Regions from separate parts of the Homo sapiens genome. Here regions 2, 3, 4, 5 and 6 are each linked to region 1. Evidence: fine-mapped expression QTL. A gene starts in region 1. Each other region holds a variant in brackets. All regions are shown on one strand. Distances are from middle to middle. Region 1 holds the start of SCARA5 (scavenger receptor class A member 5). Region 2 has its middle 21 kb from the start of PBK. Region 3 holds the start of MIR4287 (microRNA 4287). Region 4 overlaps SCARA5 (scavenger receptor class A member 5). Region 5 overlaps SCARA5 (scavenger receptor class A member 5). Region 6 overlaps ESCO2 (establishment of sister chromatid cohesion N-acetyltransferase 2).

The links.
Region 2: its variant is fine-mapped to the expression of SCARA5 in fibroblasts (GTEx, PIP above 0.99).
Region 3: its variant is fine-mapped to the expression of SCARA5 in monocytes after R848 (Quach 2016, PIP 0.95).
Region 4: its variant is fine-mapped to the expression of SCARA5 in whole blood (TOPMed, PIP 0.95).
Region 5: its variant is fine-mapped to the expression of SCARA5 in whole blood (TOPMed, PIP above 0.99).
Region 6: its variant is fine-mapped to the expression of SCARA5 in whole blood (INTERVAL, PIP above 0.99).

What each region holds. Positions count from the first base shown.
Region 1 is chr8:27,989,537-27,994,610 of GRCh38, forward strand. SCARA5 (scavenger receptor class A member 5) reads right to left here and starts at 3,137. Exons shown (of 9, transcript NM_173833.6): 1 at 2,721-3,137.
Region 2 is chr8:27,855,851-27,860,924 of GRCh38, forward strand. No RefSeq gene overlaps it. Among named protein-coding and RNA genes, the nearest start is that of PBK, 21 kb to the left of the region's middle. The variant G/C (reference allele first, on the strand shown) is at 2,469.
Region 3 is chr8:27,884,889-27,889,962 of GRCh38, forward strand. The region is part of intron 7 of SCARA5 (scavenger receptor class A member 5); the gene reads right to left. MIR4287 (microRNA 4287) reads right to left here and starts at 1,228; the gene lies at 1,151-1,228. The variant A/C (reference allele first, on the strand shown) is at 1,959.
Region 4 is chr8:27,893,298-27,898,371 of GRCh38, forward strand. All of the region lies in intron 7 of SCARA5 (scavenger receptor class A member 5), which reads right to left. Among named protein-coding and RNA genes, the nearest start is that of MIR4287, 9.7 kb to the left of the region's middle. RefSeq lists enhancers at 1-113, 1,626-2,537. The variant C/T (reference allele first, on the strand shown) is at 2,639.
Region 5 is chr8:27,877,642-27,882,715 of GRCh38, forward strand. SCARA5 (scavenger receptor class A member 5) reads right to left here. Exons shown (of 9, transcript NM_173833.6): 8 at 1,928-2,125. Among named protein-coding and RNA genes, the nearest start is that of MIR4287, 5.9 kb to the right of the region's middle. RefSeq lists an enhancer at 1-484. The variant G/A (reference allele first, on the strand shown) is at 2,022.
Region 6 is chr8:27,796,115-27,801,188 of GRCh38, forward strand. It overlaps ESCO2 (establishment of sister chromatid cohesion N-acetyltransferase 2), which reads left to right. Exons shown (of 11, transcript NM_001017420.3): 10 at 3,427-3,602. Among named protein-coding and RNA genes, the nearest start is that of ESCO2, 24 kb to the left of the region's middle. The variant T/TA (reference allele first, on the strand shown) is at 2,347.

The DNA.
Region 1 (5,074 bases):
AGGAGGGCTGGACGCCTCTGCTGTTAGCCCTTCTGTACATCCCCCATAACGGGCACACACACGCATGTGCACACACACAGCCTTGGGGCTCCCAGTATCTGCGGGCCTCTCCTCCAGCCTATGGGAGGGATGGAACAGGGGGTGGTCCTCGGCTCTGCCAGGATCTCTCCTCCCTGCCCCAGACACCACCCACTCTGGCTTCCCTGTGCTGCAGTGGTGTCCAGTTCACTGGGCTCCCAATTCCGGCCCTCCACCCAATGCCTCCACCCAGGCAGGGCCTCTAGGTGGGGCCGCGGGCAGCTCCAGCACTGCTAAGTTGCAAGGGACCCTCCCTCATTTCATGAGCACTGTGTGCGGCAGCCCTCCCTCTGGCTTCACTCCTTGCGGGGCTGTGAAGCAGGAGGCCAATGTCTCTTTTGCCTGCAATAACCCTCCCTCTGCCAAAGGCAATAGCCTCTGCTTCCCAGAGGCCACACAGAGCCAGACAGGGCGCTGCCCCTGGGGAGTGGAGGTGTGAGGCCCCACTGCCATTTCCACCTTCCTCCTCTTCTGGTCAGCTCCTGGGACGGGGCTGGAATGCACGGCTTGTTAGCCAGAATGTGTGTGAAGGGCAGCTGTCTCCTTCCTCCTCCCCACCCCTCAGCTGGTCCAGCAGGAGCCCAGGGGATCTGCTGGGGAGAGGGACTGGGGCCGAGCGGGGCCAGATGTGAGTGCACAGGGCTTGGAAAAGCTCAGACAACTCTACTCATGTTTGTTACTTGGAATTGAAACCTACGCATGTTCTGTCTGCCCAAGGTTTCTTGGGGGCTGTTTTTCTTTCTTGGGGGAGGAAGCAGGCATTGGGACCCTCAGATCATGGATCTTACTGTCTTTGGACCAAGTCTGTGCTCTAGAAGATGAAACTGATGGCAAGTGCTCCTCCCAGGAGCACTGTGTTGGGGGTAGGCTGATGGCATTTGCATTCCGTCCCTCCCATTTTAAACATAAGCCATCCCAGACCAAAGAGGCAAAGGAAGGAATGGATATCAGAGCGGGAAGAGGCCCCGGGCACAGTTTTCCTACACAGGGCACTGGCTCAGCTGCAGGGTTGCTTTGTTTGGGAATTGCATGTCAGCCCCTTTGGTGACCACTTTCTGGGCCCCAGATCAGGCAGAGAAGAGAATCCCACCTCAGACTGCCAGCCAGTGTACTCCAGCAGGTGGGGATCCTGGGACTGAGGCAGGGCTCTGAGAGCTTGAAGCACATGGGCGAGATGTGGAAGCCACAGTGACCTGTGGATGAAGCCCAAGGAGACTGGACCTCAACTTGCAACTCAAAGAGGGAGGTCTTGCTCTAACAGGGAGGTGTCACCCTCTCCACTAACCTCTTGGCAATCATGATTTACTTCCAGACAATTTCACCCAAGGCACTTAGAAGGGCAGGTTCAGAGCCAGGGATCTGCTTCTAGATTCTGCATTTTAGAGCTGGAAAAGCCCTCAGCCATCTGTGCCCTGCAGCCCTGTGCCCTGGGGCCATCTGCGCCCTGCAGGCCTGGCTCTCTGCAGGAATGCAGGGAACACAGAAGCCAAGGGCTCCCATCCTAGCTCCTCTGCGTATTGGTTTCTTGGGGGAACTTGGCTCAATTACCTGACCTCATTCAGCCTCAGGTACATGACCTCTAAGATGGGAAGGTGGGTAGCTGCTGGTCACCCAGGATCACTGTGAGCCTCCCGTGAGATAATGCATGTGGCATGACTTTATGAACAAGGTCACTCAGGGGAGCTGGTGGCAGTCTGATGAGAAAAAGCATCCCCCAGCATCTTCTGACTCTGCCTGGCAGCCAGGTAAGGGGGTGTCCAGGTTCCCAAGGCCTCCCTCCTACCTAGCCAGTCTCAGAAACAAAGCTGTTTGAAGTTCCCTTTGTAAAAGGCAATCGCGAATGCACTCTAGGGCTGATATCAGGACCCTGGCTCTTCAATCCTTCTCTGGAGATCAGAAGGACTCCATTAATTCCTCCTCTGAGTGGGTAGCACGAGCCTCATTTGCTGCTACCAAGTCAGTTTCTCTGGGTACCCGCATCTAACTCTGCAGGGTTTATGGCTTTTCTTTGGATTACCTCACTTTAAACTCATCAAAACCAAGGAAAAAAATCACATGAGTGTGGCCCTTCTCCAAAGAGAGAATCACTAAGGAGGTTTTAAATGTTTTCCTCCTCTAACTGTACTTAGTTAAGCTAAATCATAACCCAAAGCTGGACAGAGACAGATATTTTAGAAATAACCTCTCCCCACATATATCCCACCACTGGCACATGCACACGCACAGACATGCACACACACACACATGCACACACACACACATGCACACACACACATGCACACACACACATGCACACACACGAAGCCATGGAGAGGAGCTGTCACCTGAGCCATCTGCACCCTGAGTAGGCTCTTGAGCTGTGACATGAGTCAGGTGGAGTAGCCACCAAGGCAATAGCTTCCCTCTGGCACCCCAAATGCAGGCTCACATTCTCTCCAGCCCAGGCAGTTGGATGAGGGCCCGGCAGATATCTGCGGGCCCAGCAGGCGGGGACCTTCCCACCTGGAGAAGGCACCTCCAGGCTCTAGGTCTGAAGTTTCCCAAACTCTGTACTCCTCTCCATCCAGTTCACTCCAGTCTCCTCCAGCTGTCTTTGAGACAGCATGCCCAGGAGATAGGACAAAATTAGTACCAAGACTCACCTGAGTGCCCCTGGCTGAGGCTGTAGAGCCTTGTCCCCTCAGATCTCAGCATTTGCCATGGTGGCCAGAGAGCTGGCTGCCACCACGCTGAGAGCCAGGCCGCCCCTCGGACCGCGTCCCCACAGCCAGCCAAATCCAGATGGAGTCATAGAAAGGGGCTGCAGGGGCGCCCAGGGACGAGTCTCAGAGCAGGACCACAGGGGCCACTTCTGCAGGAGGACCAGGTCAAGATGCAACCTGTGGCAGAGTGGGGGTCTGGGCCTGGGGGACCCAGAATGGGGGGTGTGCGCCTGGGACTCCCTGTCCTTGGTGCCTGGTCCTGGGTAGCGATCAGGAGATGTTCTGAGGAGGCACCGGCAGCTCCTCTAGGTACTGCCTGAGATGCGAACTGCAGCTGCTCTCGCCGCCAGTCCGTATAAAATAAAGTTCTTGGAGCAGTTGCGGAGGCTTCTGCAATGGGGTCTGGAATACGGCCCCCCTCCTGCGGCCAATCGTGGCATTACAGCCCCGTGTGGGAACGCCCGCTGGGCCCAGAGCAGCGCGGTCGGCCTTGGCCTTGGGACTCCAACACCCCAGTCTAAAGGTCCTGCTCAAAATACTTTTTGGAAGACTTCTGGGGGAGTGGCAGCTAGACCTGGCTTATGAGCCACGCAAGAAAACCAGTCTTGTAAATTTATTTATAGCACAGAATTGGCATGGCTCAATTCATTCACCAAGCTTGGCACAGAGTTACTTCATGTATTTTCCTGGAGTCACATTCATCCTCAGTGGACACGGATTGGCCACACTGGGGGTAGTCAGGAAAATGCCCCAGGGGGTTCCACGGAACTCAGCAGCAGAATCAGCGTTTCTGGCTCATTAACGCTGCACAGGGGCTGGGGGGTGCAGGATGAAGACTAGCTGGCTGTCCATAGCAATTCAGTATGGGAGGGGGACCCAGGCACGAATAATCCTAAACCTGAGCATGATTGCTTACGTTTGAAAAAGGACATCTAGGCCGGGTGCAGTGACTCACACCTGTGGTCCCAGCACTTTGGGAGGCTGAGGTGGGAGGATTGCTTGAGCCCACCCACAAGTTCAAGACCAGCCTGGGCAACATAGTGAGACCCCATCTCTAAAAAAAAAAAAAATCTCTTTAAAGGCAATCTAACCATATGTGAAGGGAGCTGCTAAATTCAGATTGAGGTGGTAGTATCAGGGGCATCAGAGAAATCACCATAATTGTCCAAGCCAGGGTGGCAGAGTTAGGCTATGCAGATGGCTTCCAGAGGACAGCACCCAGAGGTAACATTCATGAATGCATTCCTGTTTGTTGGTGAAAAGTTCAGCCTCAAGACTCCAGGGTCAGGCTTCGTACATGAAAAGTGTTTGCCAAGACTCAGCTGTGTCACTGCAGCTGCCCGCCCACAGCTGAGTCAGAAACGCCGTCCTCATTCTCAGTGACTGCCCTGCCTGACTGCCTAGGAAGCAGCTCCAACATCAAACTCCATTTTACAGAAAGAACAAATGATAATTGTATCATTATGGTAATAATCCCAGGGAGCGGAGGAGGAGAAGGAAAAGAAGACAACACTTTATAGCATATACCATGTGTTTCTTATATATTAGCTCATTGAACCTATTCAACAACCCCCTGAGGCAGGTGCTGCTATTATGCTCATTTACAGAGACAGAGAGGAAGTGACTTGTCCAGGGTCTTGTAGCCAGTAAGTGGCAGAGCTAGTATTCAACCCTAGGCAATGTGATCCTAGGGTCTATGCTCTTAACCCCTCCCCTGTACCATTGCCTCTCAAGGGGAAACAAATGTTTTTGTCCCCCATCAATTCACCAACATTCCTAGGAATGTAATCTTAAAAACAGCCAGAAATGTGCTCAAAATATGATGTCCAACCAGCCTGGGCAACATGACAAAACCCTGTCTCTACAAAAAAAAAAAAATACAAACAATAGCTGGGCGTGGTGATGCACACCTGTAGTCCCAGGTGCTTGGGAGGCTGAGATGGGAGGATCAACTGAGCCCAGGAGTTTGAGGCTGCAGTGAGCTGTGATCGCACCACTGCACCCCAGACTGGGTAACAGAACAAGATCCTGTCTTAAAAAAAAAAGTGATGTCCAAAGACCTTCCCTAAAGAGATGTGTATGTTAGCAAGAAATGTGGTAGTTAGTGTCCCCCTAAATTCAAGCATTGGAAATGTAATCTTTATTGCAACAGTGTTGGGAGGTGGGGCCTTTGTGGGGGTATTTGAGTCATGAATGTATTTGGGATGCCGTAGAAAGGGCTTGCAGGAGTGGGCTGGCTTGATCCTCTGCCTTTCTGCCATGTGAGGACTCCACGCTCATCCTCGCTTGTCCTC
Region 2 (5,074 bases), 130 kb before region 1:
AAAATTAGCCGGGTGTGGTGGGTGCGTGCCTGTAATCCCAGCTACTGGGGAGGCTGAGGCAGGAGAATTGCTTGAACCCGGGGAGGTGGAGGTAGCAGTGAGCCAAGATAGTGCCACTGAACTCCAGCCTGGGCGACAAGAGCGAAAACTCCGTCTAAAAAAAACAAAAACAAAATCATATCTAAAAATACTTCACTGTTGAAATAAGTACAATCAGTATATTTTCCATTAATCATTCAATATGATCATTTCAAATTAATTTAATTCTCAACTTATTTCAATGCTTAATTAGCTTATATCAGTGTTTCTTAAAGTAAATTTTGTAGAGCACTAGTTCCCCACACAGTACTTTCCTATGCCGCATAAGAAATTACCACAATCTTAGCAGCTTAAAAACAACAAACATTTACATTTCCACTTCCAGAATGGCCACACGAGGTGCTCCACAGTCTCCAGCAAAGCCAGCATAACTGGTGAAAAATATATTTCAAACCTCAGTATTTAAAGTCTCTGGAAATTGTCCTAAGAGTATATAGCAAATAAATAAACATTTATTCAAGAAAATGGAGTAAAATTTGGTAAGAACATTGAGAGTCCATGGCATTTGAACCGTAACTCCTTCCTTACCCAGGGTTGACTGTGGCAGAAACTCCAGCCTAGGCAGGTAAAGCCAAGAACGCAAGGCTCCCTCTCCCGTCGGCTCCCACTTTCGGGTATGGTATGTTCCTGGGAGGGGCAGGCCACAGAATTTTTCATCAGCTGTGTGTTGTAAATTCCAGGGCTAAATTCCAGGTGAGTCCAGCCAAGAGGCCTGATGTTCTCTTCTTCCACCCAGCCCCCACTGGCAGGTGAAGGTTCTTCACCAGGCGCATCACACTGAGAACAGAGAGGCTGTGCTCATCCTTATTTGCAGGGTGGAGGCTCCACGCTCAGAGGGATGGATGATGCCATCCTTTACTATCACTAAGTGTGGAGTGGGGGATAACAAAACGGGTTAATGTGGGAGGTGAAAAGGTTTTACATTTCTGCTAAAAGGAGGTCAGTTCTAAATTACTTTTATTGCACACTGCTATAAGATCCATGAAGCTGACTTCTACAGTAATGATTGCTTACACATGTTGAAAGCTTGGTGCAACAGATAGGGTGCTAGACTAGAGGTTGGATATCTTTTACCTTAATTTTGTCATTTACCAGCTGTGTGACTTGAGACAATTTACCTAACCTCCGGTGGGTCATTTTTTTCATTACATAACGGGGATAATAATGACTGCCTTAATGATCTCACCGAACAAATATGCAAACCAAATCAGGTAACTTGTAAAGCTGTCTTAAATTGATTACCCTATATGAATGTAAGGGTTTATTTTTATTGTTGATGATGACAATGTAGATGGTTAATCACTAATTAAAAATAATTGGCTTAAAGAAGCATAGTTATCCAATTAACTTATCCTTGATTGATTAAACAGGTTTAAACCCAGTTCTTGTGGTTGTTCATTACCATGGACATAGAACGATCAGTTATATACTAGGATGGTTGTTCTTCACCTTCAGCGTGTTTCAGAATCACCTAAAGAGCTTGTTGAAATGCAGGCTTCAGGAACCCCTCCCCAGAGTTTCTGATTCAGAAAGTCTGGATCGGGGTCTGAAATTGTGCATTTCTAACAAGTTCCCAGGAGACACTGATGCTGTTAGTCTAGAGACCACAATTTGAGAACTACTGTCTTAGGTGGACAGGACATTTTCAGCCTTGTTACAAATTGCTATAAGGGCCCTGAAAAAAGATTCCAGGTAATATGAAAACATTTTTTAAAAAAGGCACCTGCCCTAGCCTGGGAACTGCTAGAAATCTGCAAGAAGGAAGGAACATTGGAGCTGAAATCTGGCAGAAAAGTGGTAGTTAATCAACATAGCAGAGTGGCAGAAGAGAAGAACTGCTAGACCAAAAGAAGAATGGGTCAAAGGCTCTGGGGCTGGACGGAGTGTGATGCTCAATGCTTCTGAGGAAATGGAAGGCCAGCATGCTAGGGTGAAGGTGAACACAGTGGAGGCACCGGTGAGGCCAGAGTGAGAAGGAGGAGACCAGCCCTAAAGACTCTGAATTTCATCCTGAGAGCAATGGGAATTTGCTGAAAAGTTTTCAGCAAAAGAATGTAATGACCTAATTTGTGTTTTTAAAATCCTTTCTGGCTGCTACATGGAACATTGGCTAAAAGTAGGCAAGGGTAGAAATGATGAGACTAGCTAGGAAGGTACAGAAGTCCAAGAGAGCTGGTATCAAGGGCTGGCTGAGAAAGTCTAAGTGAGGTGGGGAGCTGCGAATGGGAAGAGTGAGGCACTCCCTGGAGTAGCGAGAGAGGGAGCTGCCACCTCCCAGCTGGGTGAGTTGCAACGTTCACTGAGCTGGAGGGTGGAGGACCACAGTGTGATGGTAGGGATGGGTGGAGGGACATCCTGATTTCACTGGG[G/C]ACTTACTGTATTTTAATTTTTTAACTCACAGTAGAATTCAGGATTTTTTTTTTTTTTTTTTTTTGAGGCAGACTCTTGCTCTGTCGCCCAGGCTGGAGTACAGTGGCTGATCTTGGCTCACTGCAACCTCTGCCTCCCAGGTGCAAAGAATTCTTTTGCCTCAGTGACCCAAACAGCTAGGAGTACAGGTAATGAGCCTGCCCAGCTAATTTTTGTATTTTTAGTAGAGACGAGGTTTTTCCATGCTGGCCAGGCTGGTCTCGAACTCCTGACCTCAGGTGATCCACCCGCCTCGGCCTCCCAAAGTGCTGGGATTACAGGCATCAGCCACTGCGCCCGGCCAGAACTCAGAATTTTTTTTTTTTAATTTGGAGAATATACATTTCTAAGAATTTTGAACAATTGTGCATACATAATCACTACTGCTATTAGGACACATGATAATTTCATCTTCCAAAAACTTCCCCAGGTCGTCCTTGGTAGTCAAATCTTCTCCTTACTCCTAAAACCTGGCAATACTGGTATCATCTTGGCCTCTATACTCTTACCTTTTCAAGAACGTCCCAATGTGGAATCATACAGTGGGTAATCCTTGGGGCCTGGCTTCTCTCACTTAGCACAGCATATTTGAGATTCATCTGTGCTCTTGCATGTGTCAATAGTTCATTTCTTTTCATTCCTAAGCAGTAGTGTGTCATTTGGGTGTACCCCTTTGTTTTGGCATTTATGAATAACACTGCTATAAAGTTTCATGGACAGGCTTTCATGTGAACAGAGATTTTCATTCCTCTAGGGTAAATGCCTAGAGTTGGGGTGCTGGCTCATATAAGCTTATGTTTAACTATATTTCATATTTTATCTTATTTATTATTTATTTACTTTATATATTTTTTAATCTTTTAATTTTTTTTTGAGACAGAGTCTCACTCTGTCACCCAGGCTGGAGTATAGTGGCTCGATCTCAGTTCACTGCAACCTCTGCCTCCTGGGTTAAAGCAATTCTCATGTCTCAGCCTCCTGAGTAGCTGGGAATACAGGCGCACGTCACCACGCTTGGCTAATTTTGGTATTTTCAGTAGATATGGGCTTTGCCATGTTGATCAGGCTGGTCTCGAACTCCCGGCCTCAAGTAATTCACCTGCCTCGGCCTCCCAAAGTGCTGGAATTACAGGTGTGAGCTACCACGCCAGGACTATCTTGTTTTTTTTAGAGACAGGGTCTCAGTCATCTCACCCAGGTTAGAGTGCGGTGGTGTAGTCATAGCTCACTGCAGCCTTGAACTCCTAGGCTCAAAGGATCCACCCAACTGAGCCTCCCAAGTAGCTGGAGTCCTGGGCGCATGCCACCATGCATGGCTAATTTTTATTCTTATTTTTTTGTAGAGGTAGGGTTTCACTCTGTTGCCCAGGCTGGTCTCAAACTCCTGGCTTCAAGTGATCCTTCTGCCTTGGCCTCCCAAAGTGCTGGGATTGCAGGTGTGAGCCACCTCACCTGGCCTTTTTATAAAAAACAGCTCAACTATTTTCCAAAATGGCTAAGCCATTTCACATTCCCCCCAGCAGAGTATGAGAGTTCCAGTTGCTGTGTACCTGCATCATAATTGGTATTGCCAGGTTTGGGTTTTGTGTGTGTGTGTGGAAATTTTGACCCTCCTCATGGGTGTGTAGTGGTGTGGTTTGACAGTGTGGAGTATCTTTTCATGCACTTATTTGATATACGTGTATCTTCTTTGCTGAACTGTCTTCTCAAATGTTTTGCCTAGTTTTTCACTGGGTTATTTCCTTATGAGTGAGCTGGCCAGATTGCATTTGAGAGGCCTTTGTGATATCTGGGTGATAATGGAGGCCCTTGGAGACACATGCTTGGATGTTCAGAGATGTCTCATCTGGAGATGCTCACTTGCAAGTCAGTGGCACATAGAGATGCATGAAATAGTCCAAGGACTGCTTGTAGAACAGAGCTTTGAGGCATTCCAGCACTCAGTGGCCAGAGAGGAAGGTGAGCCTGCGAAGGATGCTGAGGACGGGCAGCAACAGAGGTCAGAGGGAAACCTTAAACATGTGGTTTCAGCAAAGCCACAGATGAGGCTTTGCTTCTTTTTTTGTTGTTGTTGTTTTTTGAGGTAGAGTTTTGCTGTTGTCTCCCAGGCTGGAGTGCAATGGTGTGATCCCTGCTCACTGCAACCTCTGCCTCCCGGGTTCAAGTGATCCTTCTGCCTCAGCCTCCTGAGTAGCTGGGATTAGAGGCACCCACCACCATGCCTGGCTATTTTTTTTTATTTTTAGTAGAGATGTGGTTTCACCATGTTGGCCAGGCTGGTCTTGAACTCCTGACCTCAGGTGATCCACCCGCCTCAGCCTCCCAAAGTGCTGGGATTACAGGCGTGAGCTGCTGCACTCAGCCGAGGCTTTGCTTCATTCTACAAACAGAAGAAGGCAGACAACAGAGTTGAATGCTGATCAGATATGATAAAGGCTGCAAAAGATGTGTTTGGTGTACCAAGGAAGATGCCATTGGTAAGCCTAGGAAAGTTTCAGTGGCCCTAAATGGGGGGATGGATTGGACCATGCTGAGGAGGGAGTGGGAGTGAGGAAATGGAGTCAGC
Region 3 (5,074 bases), 100 kb before region 1:
CAGAAGCACAGGGAGTACAGAGTGAGGCAGGCACTATTGTGGGCAAGTGAACAAAGGAGTGGAGAGTGAGGGCAGGCGCCATCTTGGACAAGTGGAGGAGGGAGGAAATGAGAGACAGGGCAGGCACCATCTTGGCCGGGTGGACAAGGAAGGAAATGAGAGAGAGGGCAGACACCATCTTGGCCGAGTGGACAAGGAAGGAAATGAGAGAGAGGGCAGGCACCATCTTGGACAGGTGGACAAGGGAGGGAATGAGAGGGCAGGTACTGTCTTGGACAAGTGAACAAGGAAGAGGGTGGGGAGTGAGAGCAGGTGCCATTTTGGACGAGTAGAGAAGGAAGGCCTTGAGTGGAGACCTGAATGAGCTGAGGAAGGACGTGGACTCCCCCACCTCAGAAAACTCCTTTCTGTACTCTGGCCTAAGCTTTCCTTGTCTTTTAGATCTCAGCTTAGATGCCTCTTCTCCTTCCCTGGTCCCCACACCCAACAGGGCCCCTTCTAGGTACATGCTTATAGCTTTGTGTCATAATTGCTATTGCTATTTACTCTCTTAGGACACTGTGAGCCTTCTGAGGATCACGTGACCTGGTACAGGGCCCGGTGCACTGAGATACCCAGCCTGTGCAAAGGGAAGGCATGCATGAATGGAGGGACTCATTAATATGGACCCAGATGGGCAGGTGCTGGCTGGAGGGCATGGCTCCCCAGAGTCCAGGGCTTTGGTGGCAACCTGAATGGAGAATCCAACATCAGGGCCCCAAATCTCCAGCATCCTCTTTATTACATCACAACACTTCTAATCACATACTTGCTGCCTTCTCTACTTGAGATGACTCTGGATTCTGGACCCAGAGCTCAGGCTGTTACAATGACCGTACATCTCAAGTGAGAGAATGGGGACATGGCTGTCAGATGATCATGGTGGGTGCAATGGGAAGTCTGGAAAATGTCATTTGGATGCTGAAATACTGAAATTCCCAAGAGGTTTCAATGTATATAGAAGTGATAGAAGAATATTTGGAAACAAGACACCTTCAAAAAATTGAAAACATATGATAACCATAATCACGGGATGCAAAGCATCAATTTCAAGGATGTCTCTGGCCCATGGCCCATGCTTACCATGCATTGAGCAAAGTCATGGCCTGCAGGGCTCCTATGGTCTCCCCAGTAGGGACCACATTGATCTCAGGAACTGAAAAGTGCCCTCAAGGGAGAAAAAGAACTAGAGAGCACCTGGGCGAGGCTGCACAAGGCACCACTCCACCCAGACCCCAGTGTCGGTTCATTAAGCATGGAGGCCTGTTCCTCACCACCTGTCCCCAGATCCCCTAGACTCAGGGCTTCCCCCCATGGTGGAGGGCCGCCTGCCCACAGGGTCAACAGATGCTGCCTGCCCCAGCAGGGTCAACACAAATCTGAAAGCCACACCTTCTCCCCTGGACTCACCCAAATCAGAGGCCACATTTTGTTGTAGCTCCACTTCACAGAGCATGGCCCTAAGCTGTGGATTTTGCATCCTTTTCTCCCCACCCAACAAAATCTCAGCTCTGTTACCACCTCTCTGGGAAACCACAGGCTGAGGTCTGACTTGCTTATGATGTAGGCTGCCCTGATTCAGGAACTCAGAGTCTAAATTCAGAAACTTGTGTCTCTGGCCTCCTTTACCCCTGAAGAGGTATAGGGGAGGCAGGCAGGCAGGAGCCTTTCCCAGAGCTGAGCAATGAGGCCACCTCCAGCAACACACTTGGGGAATCACCAACGCCCTCCAACAGTGACTACCCTCTAGCCTGAGAAGGACGTCATCATTTAAGAGGTTTGGGTTTCTGTGGGCAGAGGGTTTAAATGCTGCTTTTTCCCGGCAGTTTCTGCCCCAGGTCAAAGCTTTCCCACCAAGCCACCAACCACCACTGGGAAATGCTCTTGCCCCACAATGTGTCAGCCCCGACTTAATCAGA[A/C]GTGGTGACTGAGAGGCAGCCTCAGCCTGGTCCGTGACTTCCCCAAGACTCTTCCTGTCAGTCCAGGGAGTTTTTTCCTCAGATGCCCCCCAGGAGGGTCCCTGCAGGGGGAACGGGGCTACTGGAGTCAGGGAGATGCCTCTCTCTGCACGTGGCAGTGGAGGAAAATGGGAGACAGGGATTCTTGATTGTGTGAAATTCAGAGACTCCTAGGCTCCAAAGCAAGAGCAGATGCTCCAGGTAGAGGGCAAAGGGCAAGAGAGCTGGTGATGAGCAATGGGACCCCAGGCTTTCGAGGTTGCAGCCACGTCCCCTAGTAACTGCCCTTCAATGACTGCGAGGCACCTTCACCTCCTCCTTGGCATCATACCACATTGAGCCCTGGAAAACCCTTCCTGAGCAAATGAGGATCAGCAACCCGGAAGAAAACCCTGCCCCATACCACTCCCGTGTGGGTATCTGATTTGCACCCCTCAGGTGAGGGCGTTAGGTGCAGAGACTATCACACTTTTCCTCTTGTTCTGGATCCCTAACCTGCAGACTGGGGTCTACCTGTCCATGCCTTCATGGTTTGCAAGTTAAGAGGATGGTACTGGCTACAAGGCTGGTCCCTACCAGCTCTGTGCAGGAATGGCACCGGCACATAGCATCACTTGGCTGGAAAACCCAAGCTGAAGGGAAACACCAAGAGCTATTCCTTACTAAAAACAAGGAGAGGCTGTTCTTGACAGCTTATTCCAATCCCCATCCCACAAGGCTTTGGCAGAGCTTTTTCTTGTAATGCCCACCCCTGCCCCCCATAGCAGAGACACCCAGATATCCACAGGGCTCATCTCTGTTCATCTTTTCCCTGCTTCCCCAGAACTGGGGACCACAAGCCCGAGATGGAGCAGGGACTTAGGGGCTGCTAGGCCCCCAAACATGGAAATAAAAGAAAATCTTGAGTATCTTCAAGGGAAATTCTAGGCTAGCCCCAAGAAGTAAATGAGCAACTTGGTAAGAAAGAAAGAAATAGTAGCTTAAAGCAATAGTCAAAGAAGTTAGAGTCAACCTCTGATGACTCTCTATAGAAACTAAAGAGAACATCTTAACATATGTCCCTGAGGTGTTTTTCAGAAACCCAGCTGGATGTTTTTCAGAAACCCAGAACCAAATGGATTTGCTGGCATATAGACCTCAAATGAGGGGAAACTGAGGCCTGAACTCTGATTGACGGACTTTTTTTTTTGAGACAAGGTCTGGCTCTGTCACCCAGGCTGGAGTGCAGTGGCATGATCTCGGCTCACTACAACCTCTGTCCCCCAGGCTCAAGCCATTCTCTCCCGCCTCAGCCTCCCAAGTAGCTGGGACTACAGGGTGCATGCTGCCATGCCCAGCTAATGATTGTGTTTATTCTTTATTCTCCAGTGCCACAGAATAAAGGAAAATTCCAGGCACCTAGCTAGCTCTGAGGACCTGGAAGAAGTCACATCCACAGGCCAGACCTTAATATTCCTTTCTGCTGAACCCAAGTTTTTAGACAAAGTTTCCCTTCCTTAACCAATTGCAAATCAGAAAGTCTTTGAAGCCATGTATGACCTGTAAGCCCTTGCTTCCAGATTTCCCACCTTTTTAGGCCAAACCAATGTATAACATCCATGTCTTGATTTAGAAATTTGCCTGTAACTTCTGCTCTCCTGAAATTTACCATTGCCTTTAAACAGCCTTGCTTGTAAGCCATCCAGGAGGTTGAGTCTTAAGTGTGAGCTACCAGATTTTCTTTGCTTGGTGCCTTGCAAATAAACACCATGCTTCCTCCCACTGCACAACTTCAGTATGGATGTTTGGCTTTACCATGCCAGGCAAGAAGATCCCACTTCGGTTTGGTTACAAGCCCCATCAACACCCTGTGACCAAGGTTCTTCCCTTTGATACAGAGAAGCAGAAAGAGAAAAGTGCTGTCACCTCAAAGCCCAGACCAGAGCATCCCTGCCTGGTTTCACTGTGTAACCCTAGGAGAGGAAAGTGGTTTGAGGGAACACAGGGCAGGAGACTGGCTCCTGGCTGGGTAGCCTCCTTGCTGTCTCCCAGATCAAGGGGCTCATTGTTTCACCCCACAACTTTTCTGGAGTGTCAATTCCAGCCTCGGCTTGGAGCTCTCTGCCTCACTGCAGCCCCAGACCACAGCACCTGCCTCCCCATTCCTCAACCTGTTGTACTGAGCCTGCCCTTCACCCAGGCCCCACCGGGACCAACCCCATGGTCCTCAGCCACCCTCCTTCTACAGGCCCCAAATCTCTCAAAGCTTGAGCTTGTTCCCCAGTAAAGAGGGTACAGCTGAGGCACAGATGAGGCCAGGTCATGGAGAAGATCAAGGCATGGGTCTGGACAAGGAATCTTAGCATTTTCTCAGGATATCACTAGGAACAACTTCCATTAGCTTAGTTGTCGGCAACAGATGTCCCATTACTTAGTGCTTGGAGTGATTTTTCGGTAATTATGACATCATCTTTGGGCTTTTCCAATAATCACAAATGATGGTGAAGCATAGCATTTGCCAGCTGGTAGAGACTTGAAGATGACACAGTCCACACTCTTTGCATGACACGTGTGGGAGCAGAGGCCCAGAGAGGTGACGTGCCTTACCCAAGTCATCCCGTAGCTAGCAGAAGAGCTGGGGCCTGAACTTGAGACTTAGCCCTCGGGCCAGTTCTCCATCTACACCCTCCTTTCTTTCCCAGAATCCTTTCTTCAGAAGATCCCTGAGCATGGTCCACCAATTTGCATCACGACTTTGATGCAAGATGCCTTTTGATGGAGCAGTTACATGAAAAACAATTACTTTAACCCTGGAACTGCAATGCTTCTAACTAAAATTCATAGAAACAGCTTGGTTTCTCCTGAGTCTTATGGGAGAACCAAGAAGACAGGGTTGCCTTTGTGAAGCACAGCCATTGCTGAGTTTGCATTTGAAAATGAACATGTCAACGATTGCACGCAGGGGAAGGATAAACCAGCCTTGGCTTTTGAGGAAAGTGATAATATTTGTTGAAGTCCGGGGTGATTCTACTTCCCGTGCACAGATATGCAGCACTAAAAATGCATTATCTGTATTAATTCTTTATGTATATTTTATC
Region 4 (5,074 bases), 96 kb before region 1:
CTGGATGTTATTTGTTAAGCAAGGCAGCTCTGGAATGGCCCAGGAATGCAATGCTAGGGCTGCGACCACGCTTGAGCTCCTAGTGCAGACCTTAGAAATCTACTATGTGGGGATTCTCCTCTCAAAACAAACATTTCTTTGCTCTCTTTGTTTTGTAAATATATATGTCAGACAAGCAAGGTCCCAGGCAAAGCAGGCTGAGTCTTACCCCAGATGCCCCTGAACCCTGGAGCTGGAAGGGGTCTCGGACATTGGCCTTGAACCCCTCCCCTCTACTTCAAACACACAGATCCTCTCCTCTCTGTAGCACACCAGACAGCTGCTCATCCTGCCTCTGGGAATGGAAGGGAACCCGACAGCATCTCTGGGGAATGCATTACAGGATTTTAAAGCCAGGATCTGGTTTCACTTACTCGCCCTGGCATCTCTGGACATCCCAGGGTTTTGCATCTGATTATTCCCTACCTTATTTTACACTGTGTGCTTGGGGATTCATGGCTATCACTGGGGTGTGAGATGAGGAACAGCCTTTTCCTTCTTTCAGCGCAACTGAGCAAGTGGTTTTATTACTCCGCCCCCAGCGGGTTTAGGAGGACTGTGTAGTGGCCAGTGGCTGCCATCTCTCAGAACTGGCTTCCAAGGCTGGGGTAACCTCAGAGCTATCTACTGCCAGCAGGGCTTGGCCACACCTGGCTCAGGGCCATCCCCAAACCCAGCGACAACACAGCCAAGTTCTGGGTACTACCCAGGACAGAGCTCAAGTCAGGCATAAAAAGAGGAGAGAATGATTATCTACTGAGGTCCCGTCGTGCACAGGCTGGGCACTGTGCAAAGTGCTTTGTGCGTGCATTTGCTCATTTCTTCTTCAGAGGAGCTCCATGAGTTAGTTATTACAGCTCATTTAACAGAAGAGAAAACAGGCTCAGAAAAGTCAAGTAAAAATTTGCTCAGGGTCACACAGCTGCCACATGGAAGAGTCAGAGAGAAGGGCAAAGGCTTGTTATTTTCAATCCACAGAGGCGACTCTCAGGCTGAATGCTTAAGACAAATATTTAATAACAGCCCTCTCCAAACATAAAGTGCTTTTCATCCATCTCACAACAGCCCTATGGGGTCTGCCGGATCCACTCTTCTCAGGCTTAAGGGAATGAGTCTTAGACTGAAAGCAGTAGCTCCAGTCTTGACTGTATCTGGGAAGCACCTGGGAAGCTCTGAAACCCACCAGTGTGAGGGGCCAGTTTTAAACAATTCGTAGGTGATTTTGGTGCACAGCCAAGGCTGAGAAGCTCTGTGGGAGAATGTGGATCTGGGATCAAGCCCCGGCTACACAACTCCCTAGTTGTGGGGCCTTGTGAGTAAGGCAGAGAGATGTCACCTCCTCTGGGAAGGCTTCCCTGATTGTGGCCCCAGCATGTGCTCTCCACTAATGAGAAATCCTGCACCATGATTCCCTCTTCCGTGTCTCTCTGCACTCCCCATGGGAAGCTGCGTGAAGGGGGCCACCATTCTGCATCCTTGTGGTTCCAAATCACATCCCTGCAGCAAACAGAGAGCCTGCACGTTCCAGTGCTCAACAGATGGTGTGGAATGAATGAGTGGGGCAATGAATGGATGAATGGGACTCACAGCATTTGAGGGGCTCTGAGAACGGAGCTGGTCACTAAATACCCCAAAACCTGCTTGGCTGTGCACCAGAAGGGACCTAAAGTCCAGGGAACTTTGCCTCTACAGAAAAGCAGAGGGAAAGCCCACCCTAAGCCTGGAAGATTGCAGCTCCTTTATGTTTGTTTTCCCTGCCTTCCAGTCCCCCTGAAAGAGCAAAACAAGAGGAAAGAAAGGAGGTTGTGGAGAATAGAAATAAACACATGGGGCTGGGAATATAGGCTCTGATTTTCTGCAGCTGCAGAGTAGAGCCCTAGGGATAATTCGGACCATCTGCCCATTAAGGAAGTTGAACTTTCATTCTCTTGTAAAGAAAGAACTCCCCGTGCCCCCAGCCGGCCTGAGGCACAGGGGCTCTGCTGAGGCTGAGGTGACACTGCTCGGCAGGAAATGTGATCCATATGGGAAGGACAGGGGCCATCCCAAAAGCAAAAGAACTTTCTGATCAGGCTGTCCTGGAGGGCATCGCTTTCAAAATGTTGTCTGGCCTGTGGGTGTGCTTTGTAAAATGCTATTTCCTAATGCCAATCTGCTCTTAATACGTTCCTTTACAACTCTTCAAAGCACTTTTATTAGCAGTTCTCATGGGGTCTTTGCTGTCCTCCCCTGAGGTAGGTGGTGTTAGCCCCATTTTACAGGTGAGAAAGCTGAGACTCAGAGAAGGGGAGTGAGTGACTCTCTCCAGGTCACATGATAAGGCGGCCACGCCAGGACCACACCTGGGTTTCCAAAGTGCTGTGTCTCCACTTAGGGGTCAGACGGGGTACTTGGGACTTTGCTGGGTAGAAGGAGCAACAGAACTATCTCCCGCATTGTCACTGCCCTGAGGATCGTACTGGACTTTTAAAAACTGTGACTTCCCCTCTTTGTCTCCCCAGCCGTGCTTCATATTCTCTGGAAACTGGAAGTTTGCTCTGATCTTGCTATTCCTGGCTACCCGGTGTTCAATAAAAAGTGTGTCTGATCAAATAATAAA[C/T]GAAGCGCTTTCCTTGCCCAGTCCTGAACCAGGAGCTCACCCCATCACAGTGGGAGGATGCTGTTAAGGCCCAGAAGCTCTGCTTAGAGCTGGATTTGTAGGAATTTCCTGGGTGGCCTGGGTGGACAAGTGAATCCTGTTCTTTCTTAAGCTCCTGAACCTCTCAGAGGGCAGTGAGAGGTCAGAGTCAACAAGCATTTAAAACCAGAAAGAAATGCTGGAGAGCCAGGAGAAGACAGTGATGCTATGTGCCTGTTTCATCAGGCCTGCAGCCCTCCTTGCTGTACACCCTGTGGGGAGGTGCTGACATCCGTAAGGCACCCTTCTTGAAGGCTCAGGTTCATGTGCCCAGGGCTAGTGGACCTTCCTGGGAGGGTTCTGCCATCCCCTCCTTGCCCTAGTTCCTATCCCAGTTCTCCTCCTCCTCTATGTTCTAGGTCTGAGTCCCCTTTCCGTGATGCTTCTCCACCTCTGCACCATAAATCCTCAAAGGTCAGGACTGTCTTGAGAACCAGGTTTACCCCTCTCTAACTCTAGGACCTTGGGTGAGGAGTGTAAACTCTCAGCATGGTTCCCTCCTCAGTTAGATGGGATGACGACATACCCCAGAGTTATTCTGAAACATGCAGGAGCTCAGTGACCGGGGTGGTTGCCTCTCAATAGTGTTGAACTCAATACAACCCCTGAGGATCATGGTGGGGGACCCAGGCACCATGACAAGTGACTTTTCAAACCTCTGAGTCAGCGAGAAAGACAGCCATATACCCCCTCCTGCCACCATGGCCCCAAGACCTCCCAGGGAGGTTTACTATGGCTTCGTCTGTCTCTTTCTTCCATCTGAATTCAACAAACGGCTCCCTAAAGAAAAGAGGCTGAGGCTGGGCGCAGTGGCTCACGCCGGTAATCCAAACACTTTGGGAGGCTGAGGCGGGTGGATCTTGAGGTCAGGAGTTCGAGACCAGCCTGACCAACATGGTGAAACCCTGCCTCTACTAAAAGTACAAAAATTAGCTGGGTGTGGTGGTGTGCACCTGTAATCCCAGCTACTTAGGAGGCTGAAGCAGGAGAATCGCTTGAACCCAGGAGCAGGAGGTTGCAGTGAGCAGAGATTGTGCCACTGCACTCCAGGCTGGGCGACAGAGTGAGACTCGGTCTCAAAAAAAAAAGAAAAAGAAGAGGCTGAAATCCAGCCCCAGGGGAAGTAAGTCCAACTAGATAGCTGGCCCCAAACACCCTCCAAGGGTGGCTTCCATGTCAAAGGACAGAGGGTACTTAGGGCTGTGAAGTTCATGTAGTGGCAGTGAGAGTTGATCCAGTGACATCAAAGGCTCCCGGGGACCTCCCGGACTCAATCCGCAGAGCCCACAGCTGCATCCACTCCCAGCATAACGGGAGCTCGGGGTCACGGAGATTAAGGACGATTCCCAAGTTTGTTTGAAATGTTTTCTAAATAAACAGTCAAACCACTCTTGGTTTTCATGTACATCTCAACGTAAAAACTTTTCTTTGTTCAAAACCCACATCAAAGATCCCAGCGTCATTTCTTTCACTGGTTTTCATAGATGATTCCGTGTTCACCTTCGTCTGATGTGGGTATTACTAAGACAGTTTTCTTGCAGGGCAAACCCCCAAAGCCACTGCATGTCTGCCAGAGAATTGGGGATGCCAGTCCCTGGTGGGGAGGGAAGGGCGGCACCGCAGGCTCGGCTGCCTGTGTACGCAGAGAAGTGGAGACACAGCAGGCAACACACATAAGAACAGGGATTAGGCAGCAGTCAAACTGGCCACCTCAACTTACGTGTGAAATGCCCCCACTAGATAAGGCGTCACAGCAGCCACGCCTCCCAAGTCCCACACACTCACCTGGCTGCTAACTCTGAACATAAACTCCACAGTGCCTTGTTTATTTTCTTCCAACTAGCAGTTCTTCCCAGGCTTTGGCCCTGGTTCCTGCCTTCAGTTAGCATATATCCAGAATACAAATATTAGTGGCCCTGTTAATGACCTCTTAGGATTCCCAAGAGGGGCTTCATTTCTCCTTGCCTAAGCATTTTTTCCCTGCCAGGGCACGGGCCCAGCTCTGGTCTCTCTCCCTCTGGCCAGGGATGCTGAAAATATCTTTTAAAGAGATGAAAGTAATACAACGAGCTCAGCTGTCCCTGACTCGCAGGCGCCTCTGCACATCCTTATTTTACCACTTGACTTCTTAAAGGGGCCAGGCCTTTAATTTTTCCAGGTCCTCTTGAATGTATGTGAAGCCATCAAACCACTCACAGCATGGATTAATCGGAATTGAACTGTTTTCTGCACACAGCAGTGTAGAAGCTCCCATGGAAGGGGTCACTGGGAGCTTTCAGGAAGAGTCACTGGATTTGTTTTTGGAAGGCTTAAGATGGGATCTTGGCAAACCAGAATGTCTGGAAGGCCAGATCCCAT
Region 5 (5,074 bases), 110 kb before region 1:
CTATTCTAATCAACAACAACGGTGGTTTTCCTTAGTCAAAACCAGCTGGAATCCAGCCCCAAGCCTTAGGTGGGAGAACAGTATTCTTTCCTGGTAGGCTGCCCTTCATGGTGCCGGATCCCTTCGAACTCGCCCCTCAAACTCTGGCCCTTAAGACGGCACTCCCTGCCAGCTGGCTCGACAGATTTCACCAAGGGTCACTTTCAGTCAATTACCAATGAGATCTATGGGATGAGATTCAGACCAAGAACTGCAGCAGCCCCTTATGGGGATGAAGAGGAAGGCGGCTGGGAGGAGTGGAGGCTTCCACCTCCAGTCTGGATGTGACCTGGCTCCGAGTCCCCATCTGGAAGGGACATGCCACTTTCTCCCCTCACCCTGTAGCCATTTAGCACAGTGGGTTGGACAGCAATGACCTCAGGCAAGACAGCAGGTACGCCCGGCTCCACTCCATGATGTGGGGAACCCTGCCGTCAGTGGGCTGCCATCCACAGGTCACCAGGGGGCCTGGTAACTGGGTGTGAGAGGATCAGCCCCAATCCCTCCCCACACCCACCTGGTCTTCTCCACAGGTGAGCAGTGGCATCTTAAATCCCAGGGGGCCCAGGCTGGGAGACCCATTATGCAGCCTGCAGGCCCTTTAGTTACAGACAGGACACCAAGACCCAGAATGCAGAAGCAACAGGGCCAGGACATGCCATCAAGGGAAAGCTCACTACTGAATGGGTGTGGGGAGTACCAGGTTTGTGCATGTGGGACCATTGTTTTAGTTGTGAGTCAACACAAGAGTCTGATTCTTTCCATCAGGAAACAAATGCAGGGTTTGAATCAGCCATCTACCTAAGAAGGGTCTGTGCCCCTTCCTCAGAGTCTCTTGTGCTATCTGTAGGAGGTCAGTGTGCTTCAGTGTGTCAAAAGGAAAGCAACCAAAATGATGAAGACTCTCCAAATCTTGTCATATGAGGGCAAGATGAATATCTGGGGATTAATCTGGAGAAGAAAAGACTCAGAGAGGCAGAGACAGCCCAGCAGAGTGGTTCAAATACAGACTCCTAAGACACCTGCTTGGGCCTAAACATCGGGTCTGACATTTGCTAGCTGTGTGACCTTGGGCAAGTTACTCAACCTCTCTGCACTTTTATTTCCTCATTTGAAAAACAGGGATGGCTGGGCATGGTGGCTCACGCCTGTAATCCCAGCACTTTGGGAGGCCAAGGTGGGTGGAGTACTTGAGCCCAGGAGTTCGAGACCAGTCTGGGCAACATAGTGAGACCTCATCTCTATTAAAAATAAGAAGAAAAGTTAGCTGGAGATTGCTAGTAGGCCCAGCTAGTCAGGAGGCTGAAGTGGGAGGATCGCTTGAGCCCGAGTGATCAAGGCTGCAGTGAGCCATGATTGCACCATTGCCCTCCAAACTAGATGACAGAACAAGATCCTGTTTCCCTCCTTGAAAAAAGAAAAACAGCGATGATACCTGTATACTTCATAGTGCTGTAAAGATGAAATGGGTAAATATTTGTTACATGTTGAGAACATAGGCTGGCACACTGAGTATCATATAAGTGTTAACAATAAAAACATAATAGAGACATGAGAGCACGTTATAAAGGTCTAAAGAGCTAGCCAGGGAGAGAGAGACCACAGCAGCTGTGCCTGGGACACAGGACTGGGAAGGGCTGGTATGGGACACCACCAGGACAGGACTTAGATCCACGAAAGGAAGAATGTTCTAATCATCAGAACTGTCTGATGACCACCGGAGATGGTTGCCTGGGGCGGGGCAGTGAGTTCTTATTGCAGCAAGCATTTGGGGAGAGGCTGGGGACCTCGCGGAATTGCAGTGGAAGGGACTCGGGCTTTGGAGGTGAGCCCAGTCCTAGGATGTGCAGGCCCTCTCCTCATGTTTTTTGCCCTCAGAGCGCCTTACCTTGCCCGAATCGAGCTGTGCGGTACACCTCCTCCACACCGCGGAAGCCGAGCATGCGGCACACCACGTCTCCGTCCTTCTTGTCCCAGCCGTC[G/A]TCACACACGGTGCCCCAACGCCGGTCGTGGTACACTTCCACGCGGCCCTCGTGCGGACCTGAGCCATTCACCAGGCGGATCATCATCGGGGCCTCCACGCCACCTGCCGGAGCAGCCAACTGTCACTACCCAGCTCTAGATACACCAGGACCCGCCCCCAGGGGCCTTCTTTGACTCCGCCTACCCCTGGGTAGGAGGAAGAGAGGGCTGGGGCCCAGCTGTATCAAGACTTCAGCCCCCAAATCACCCTGTGCCTCTTCTGCCCTTTGCCAGCCTTCTCCCCACCTTAAAAAAATAGCCTTTTTCACAGCGCGGTGCTGGTACAAAAACAGACACAGAGACCAATGGAACAAAATAGAGAGCCCAGAAACAAAGCTACACACCTACAGCCATCTGATCTTCGACCAAGTCAAAAGAATAAGCAGTGGGGAAAGGACTCCCTATTCAATAAATGGCGCTGGGATAGTTGGCTAGCCGTATGCAGAAGAATGAAACTGGAGGACCCCTACCTTTCACCTTATACAAAATTATAGAACTCAAGATGGATTAAAGATTTAAATTTAAGACCTCAAACTGTAAGAATCCTGGAAGAAAACCTGGGAAACATTATTCTGGACATTGGCCTTGAAAAAGAATTTATGACTAAGTGCTCAAAAGCAATTGCAACAAAAACCAAAATTGACAAGTGGACGAGTGGGAACTAATTAAACTAAAGAGCTTCTGTACAGGAAAAAAAAAAAAAAACCTATCAACAAAGTGAACAGACAACCTACAGAATGGGAGAAAATACTAATATTTGCAAACTATGCATTCACCAAAGGTCTAATATCTGGAATCTATAAGGAACATAATTCAACAAACAAAAAACAAATAACCCCATCAGAAAGTGGGCAAAAGAGCGGCTGGGCTTGGTGGCTTATGCTTATAATCCCAGCACTTTGGGAGACCAAGGCAGGAAGATCACTTGAGGCTAGGGCTTCAAGACCAGCCTCAGCCTGGGCAGCATGGGGAAACCCTGTCTCTACAAAATAATAATAATAAATGAGCCAGGCATAGTAGCCCATGCCTGTGGTGCTAGCTACTCGGGAGGCTGAGGTGGGAGGATCACTTAAGCCTGGGAGGTTAAGGCTGCAGTGAGCCACGTTTGTGCCACTGCACTCCAGCATGCATGACAAAGCAAGACCCTGTCTAAGGAAAAAAAAAAAAAAAAAAAGTGGGCAGGAGACATGAACAGATATTTCTCAAAAGAAGATATACAAACAGCCAGCAAACATGAAAAAATGCTCATCGTTACTAATCATCAGAGAAATGCAAATCAAAACCACGATGAGATACTATCTCACGCCAGTCAGAATGGCTATTATTAAAAAGTCAAAAAACAACAGATGCTGATAAGCCCGTGGAGAAAAGGGAATGCTTATACTGTTGGTGGGAATGTAAATTAGTTCAGCCACTGTGGAAAGCAGTTTGGAGATTTCTCAAAGAACTTAAAACAGAACTATCATTTGACACAGCAATCCCATTGCTGGGTGTACATCTGAAGGAAAATAAATCATTCTACCAAAAAGACACATACACTCATATGTTCATTGCAGAACTATTCACAATAGCAAAGACATGGAAATCAACCTACGTGCCTATCAGCAGCGGATTGAATAAAGAAAATGTGGTACATATACATATACACCATGGAATACTATGCAGCCATAAAAAAGAACAAAGTCATGTCCTATGCAGCAACATGGATGCAGCTGGAGGCCATTATCCTAAGTGAATTAATGCAGGAACAGAACACCAATACCTCATATTCTCACTTTTAAGTGGGAGCTAAACACAGGGGTGGGGGTGGGAATACAAGATGGGGGAGGGGAGAAGAGGGGTAAGGGTTGAAAACCTAACTACTGGGCACTACGCTTACTACCTGGATGACAGGATCATCTATACTCCAAGCTTCAGCATCACGCAATATACCCAGGTAATAAACCTGCACATGTACCCCCTGAATCTAAAATAAAAGTTGAAATAATAAACAATAAAATAAAATAGCCTTTTTTAAAGAGCAGTTTTAGGTTCGCAGAAAAATTGATTGAAAGGTACAGAAAATTCCCATATACAACACCCCTCCCTCTACACACAGCCTCCCCCATTATCAACATCCCCTGAGAGTGGTGCATTTGTTACACTCAATGAACCTACACTGATGCCTCGTCATCACCCAGAGTCCACAATTTACATTTGGGTTCACTTTTGGTGCTGCACATGCGATGGGTTTGGACAAATGTATAATAATGTGTATTCGCCATTACGATATCATACAGAATCTTTTCACTGCCCTAAAAATCTTCTGTGCTCCACTTATTCAGTGAGACTATTCATCTCTCCCTCCTCCCTACCCCTGGCAACCACTGATCTTTTCACTTTCTCCGTAGTTTTGCCTTTTCCAGGATGTCATAGTTGGAATCATACAGTATGCAGCCTTTTCAGATTGGCATCTTTCACTTAGTAATAAGTAAGTGAACCTTCATGTAAGGTTGCTTCATGTCTTTTCATGGCTTCATAGCTCCTTTCTTTTTAGGACTGAATGGTATTCCATTTTCTATGTGCACCATAGTTTATTCATCCATTCACCTACTGAAAAACATCTTGGTTGCTTCAAAGTTTTTGCCTGGATGAATAAAGCTGCTATAAATATCCATGTGCAGGTTTTCATGTGGATGTCAGTTTCAGCTCATTTGGGTAAATATCAAGGAGTGTGATTACCAGATTTCTCTCCACTGTTTGAGACCCGGTGACCAGCAGCCTTGCCTGCTAGGGAGGAGGGTGTAGGAGAAATAGGAAGCCAAGGATGGTTAAGACTTTGTGGGCAGGTAGCATGGCTGTGTCCCGGGAAGTGTCTCAGCCCTGATTTGGTCATTCATGTTCACTTTCCCACTAGGCTGTGAGTGTGAAAGTGCTTTAAGCCAGAGAGAGCCAGTTGGGAATTCTGGTTCTGCCACTTACTATCTGCAACTGTGAGACACATTGGTTCATCAAATCTGAGATGCCACCTGTT
Region 6 (5,074 bases), 190 kb before region 1:
CTCCTTTTTATTGGTTAGTTTAGATTTTCTGTTTCTTCATGATTTGGTATAGGTAGGTTGTATGCTTCTAGGAATTTATTTCTTATAGGTTACCTAATTTGTTGATATATGATTATTCATAGTCTCTTACGATCCTTTGTACTTCTGTGATAATCAGTTGTAATGTCTCCTCTTTCATTTGTGATTTTGTTTAGTTGAGTCTTCTTTTTTCTTAGTCTAGCTAAAGGTTTGTCAATTATCTTTCAAAAAACCAACTCTTCATTTTGCGAATCTTTTCTATTTTTTGAGTCCCTGTTTAATTTATCTCCACTGATCTTTATTTTCTTCCTTCTACTAACTTTGGGCTTTATTCTTCTTTTTCTAATTATTTGAGGTGTAACGTTAGGCTACTTGAGATCTTTCTTCTTTTTTTATGTAGAACTGCTTTTGCTGCATTCCATAGGTTTTGGTGTGTTGTGTTTCCATTTTCATTTGTCTCAAGAAATTTGTCAATTTCCCTTTTAATTTCTTTGATCCATTGGTTGTTCAGGAGCATGTGGTTTAATTTTCACATATTTGTCAGTTTTCTACTTTTCCTCCCGTCATTGATCTCTAATTTTATACTGCTATGAATGTTCTGTGTGCACTTGAAAAGAGTGTGCATTCATTCCGCTGCTATTGGATGGAATACTATATGTGTTTCTGTTAGGTCCATTAGGTCTGAAGTGTAAGTTCAGTGTTTACTGGCTGAACTCAGTGGCTCACACCTGTAATCCCAACACTTTGGGAGGCTGAGGCAGGAGGATAGCTTGAGGCTAAGAGTTCAAGAACAGCCTGGGCAACATAGTGAGACCCTGTCTTTACAAAAATTAGCCAGGCATGGTAGTGCATGCCTATAGTCACAGGTACCTAGGAGGCTGAGGCAGGAAGATTACTTGAGCCCAGGAGTTCGAAGCTGCAGTGTGCTATGATCGCACCAGTGCACTCCGCTCAGGGCAATAGTGAGACCCTATCTCTTAAGAAAGAAAAAAAAAGTTCATTTCCTTATTGATTTTCTGTCTGGACGATGTATCCATTGTTGAAAGTAGGATCTTGAAGTCCCCTACAATTTTGTATTCCTATCTATTTCTCCTTTCAGAATCCTAAATATTTATATATTTAGGTGCTCCAATGTTAGATGCATATGTATTTACAACTGTTTTATCTTAATGAATTGACCCTTTTATTATATAATTACCTTCTTTGTCTCTTGATGGTTTTTGACTTAAAATCTATTTTGTATGATGTAAGTGTAGGTACTTCCTGTTCTCTTTCGGTTTCCATTTGCATGGAGTCGTTTTTCTGACCCTTCACTTTCAGTCTATGTGAGTCTTTTGTAGGCAATATTTAGTTGAGTCTTGTGTTTTTATCCATTTAGCCACTCTGTGTGTCTTGATTGGCAAACATATTCTATTTACACTTAAAGTAATTATTGATAAATAAGGATTTACTATTGCCATTTTGTTTTGTTTTCTGGTTGTTTTATATATATTCCCTTCTTCCTCTCTTGCTGTCTTCCTTGGGATTTGATGATTTTCTGTAGTGGTGTGCTTTGATTTCTTTATCTTTTATGTATCTACTATAGGTTTTCGCTTTATGGTCATGAGGCTTACATAAAATATCCTATAATATAACAGCCTATTTTAAGCTGATAACAATTTATATCACCTACAAAAGCTCTGCACTTTTTTTCCCTTCAACATTACTAATTTTACAGTTTACATCTTTTTATGTTGTGTATTTATTTAAGAGGCCTTTTCCTTCTTCGATCTCAAAGAAGTAGACTGTTATGTCCTGATAATAGGCAAGATGTAGCTAACTAACTGTTCTCTTCTACTCTCAGGTCAGAAACAATGTTGTGTTGTTCGTAATTAAAAACTAAATACACACCTGTCAGAAGGGTAACAGTAGGTAAAGAATTGAGACAATACCAAATGCTAGTGAGGATATGGGGAAACCAGATCTCTCACACCTTGTTAGTAGGAATGTAAAATATTACAGCCACTCTGGAAAAAGTTTTGAAGTTTCTTTAAAAACTAAACATAGGCCAGGCGCAGTGGCTCACACCTGTAATCCTAGCACTTTGGGAGGCCAAGGCAGGTGGATCACCTGAGGTCAGGTTCGAGATCAGCCTGACCAACATGCTGAAACCCCCCGCCTCTACTAAAAATACAAAAATTAGCTGGGCGTGGTGGTGCATGCCTGTAATCCCAGCTACTTGGGAGGTTGAGGCAGGAGAATCACTTGAACCCAGGAGGTGGAGGTTGCAGTGAGCGAGATCGTGCCACTGCAATCCAGCCTGGGCCACAGAGTGAGACTCCGTCTCTT[T/TA]AAAAAAAAAAAAAACTAAACATGTATTTACTATATGATCCAGCCATTGTTCTCCTGGGCATTTAAGTAAAACAAAGGAAAACTGATGTACACACAAAAACCTGTACAAGAATGTTAATAGCAGCTTTATTAGTAATAGCCAAAACCTGGTAACAACCAAAGTGTCCTTAAATGCTTTAGGTGAATGATAAGCTATGATACAGCCATATGATGGAATATTACTTAGCTATAAAAAGTAACAAAGAATTGATACACTTAACAACTTGGATGAGTCTCAGGGGCATTATGCTGAGTGGGAAAAAGCCAATCTCAAAAGGTCATATGGTATATGATTTCATTTATATAATATATAACATTCTCATAGCCATGGGGAATAAATTGGTGGTTGTCAGGGACTGAGGATGGGAGAGGGGGTAGTGTGGATGTGACTATAATGAGGAAGAAGATCTTTGTGGTGACTCAATAGTTCTGCATTTTGATTGTGATGGTAGTTAAATGTATATACAGGTGTGATTAAGTGTCATGAAACTATACACACCATTATACCAATGGTAATTTCATGGTTTTGGTATTATACCAGTTATGGAAGATGTAATCATTGGGGAAAACTCAGGGAAGGATACATGCTCCTCTGTAGTGGTTTTTTTCAACTTCTTATGAATCTATTTCAAAATAAAAATGTTTAAGAAACGAAATGCCAACCAAATTTCATAGTTAATAGATATAAATCTTCTTTAGTGTTACTGGTTTCTTTAGGTGGTCATATATACATTTTAGGATGGAGAGAATGAGAGAGTTTTATATACTTTATTAAAAGGAAGAGTCTAATGTTTACAATTGTTTAAGAGGAAAGTCTCGTAATGCTATGGGACACACTAGAATTTGTGAATGTCTCAACACCACTAGTTTTTTTAAAGCATTGTGTGACTAAAGGGATAAGAATTTAAGAAATAGAAAATATTTTTTAACATACTTGGAGATATAAGTTAAATTTTTGATACTTATTTAAGGAATTTTTTTTTAAAGCAGTGTGAACTCATCTGTGGTGTTAGCTATAGATGCTTCTGTATATCATTGCAGGCATTTCGTGTCCTGTCTGAACCAATTGGTCCAGAATCCCCAAGCTCTACGGAATGTCCTAGGGCTTGGCAATGTTCAGATGTACCAGAACCTGCAGTCTGTGGGATAAGTAGAATCTGGGTTTTCAGACTGAAGAGAAGAAAGCGCATTGCAAGACGACTGGTTGATACCCTCAGGTAAGAAATAAAATGGATCTAGATCCAGAACCTTAGATTCATAGCTTTCCCAGAACCTCTCGGCTTCTGAGCTAAAGGGAAGGATATTGGTAAGATACTTCAGTATAAATACTATTAAAGTCAGGCTAAGGAAGGTATTGGTACTAGAAAAACCATACTAGATGTACTCAGTCTAGGGTGCAACATTCCAGGTCTGAAACATACTAGCCCACTGCTTTTCAAACTACCTGTGCTAAAGGACTAGTTTAATTTGTCACAGACCAACACTAATAAAATAAAAATGGATTGCTAGAAAAAAATAGAAAAAACAAAACTACAATCTCAAATTGTTTTAGACTTAACAGATGTGAAATTACGCTTCAATAAATATAATCTATACAAAGTAAAGGTTTGAAAAATTACAGAAGCTGTACATGGTCATTGATAGTGACTAGATAATGAAGACTTGGTATAACTCATAAGCATAACTAAAAAAGTGGATTTGTGAGACAATCCATAGAACGAGAGAAAATAGTTGCAAATCATTTGTCTAAGGGTCTAATACCCATAAAATAATTCTTATAACACAATAAAAAGACAACCTAATTTAAAAATGGACAAAGAATTTCAGTAGACATTTCTCCAAAGATAAATTGCAAATGGTTAATTCAACATAAAAAGATGCTCAACATCTTTATCAGGGAAATCACAAAACAAAACCATAGTGAGATCCCACTTTATACCCAGTAGGATGACTGTAATCAAACAGACAAGTGTTGGTGAGGATGTAGAGGAAACTGAAACCCTTGTACATTGCTGGTAGGAATGTAAACTGGTGCAGTTGGTGTGGAATACAATCTGATGGTTTCTCAAAGTTAAACTGTTATGTGACCTAGCAGTTTCACTCCTAGGTATATACTCAAGAAAACATGTCCACACAAAACCTTGCACATGAAGGTTCATAGCAGGATTATTTATAAAAGCCAAAAAAGTGTAAATAATCCAATCTGTGATTAATGGATAAATGTGATATATCGATACAATAATAACAATGGGATGTTATTCAGCCATAAAGGAAATTCTGGCACACACTGCAACATGGAGGAACCTTGAAAACATTATGCTAATTGAAATAAATCAGTTGCAGAAGATCGCACATTGTATGATTATATTTACATAAAATGTCCATAAGAGGCAGGCAAATCCAGAGGCAGAAAGTAGATGTGTAGTTTCCAGGGACTGAGGAAAGATGAATGGAGAGCAACTAATAATGAGTACGGGGTTTGGGATGATAAAAATGTTCTAGAATTAGATAGTGGTGGTGACTGGACAATATTTGTTAATATACACAAAACCACTCTGTTGTACACTTTTAAAGGGTGAGTCTTACAGTATATGAGTTATATCTCAACCAAAAAAATGAGTGTCCAGTTTTAATTCCCATGTACACACTTTGAACTGACACTATGTATTGATGTTTAAAGTTTCCAATG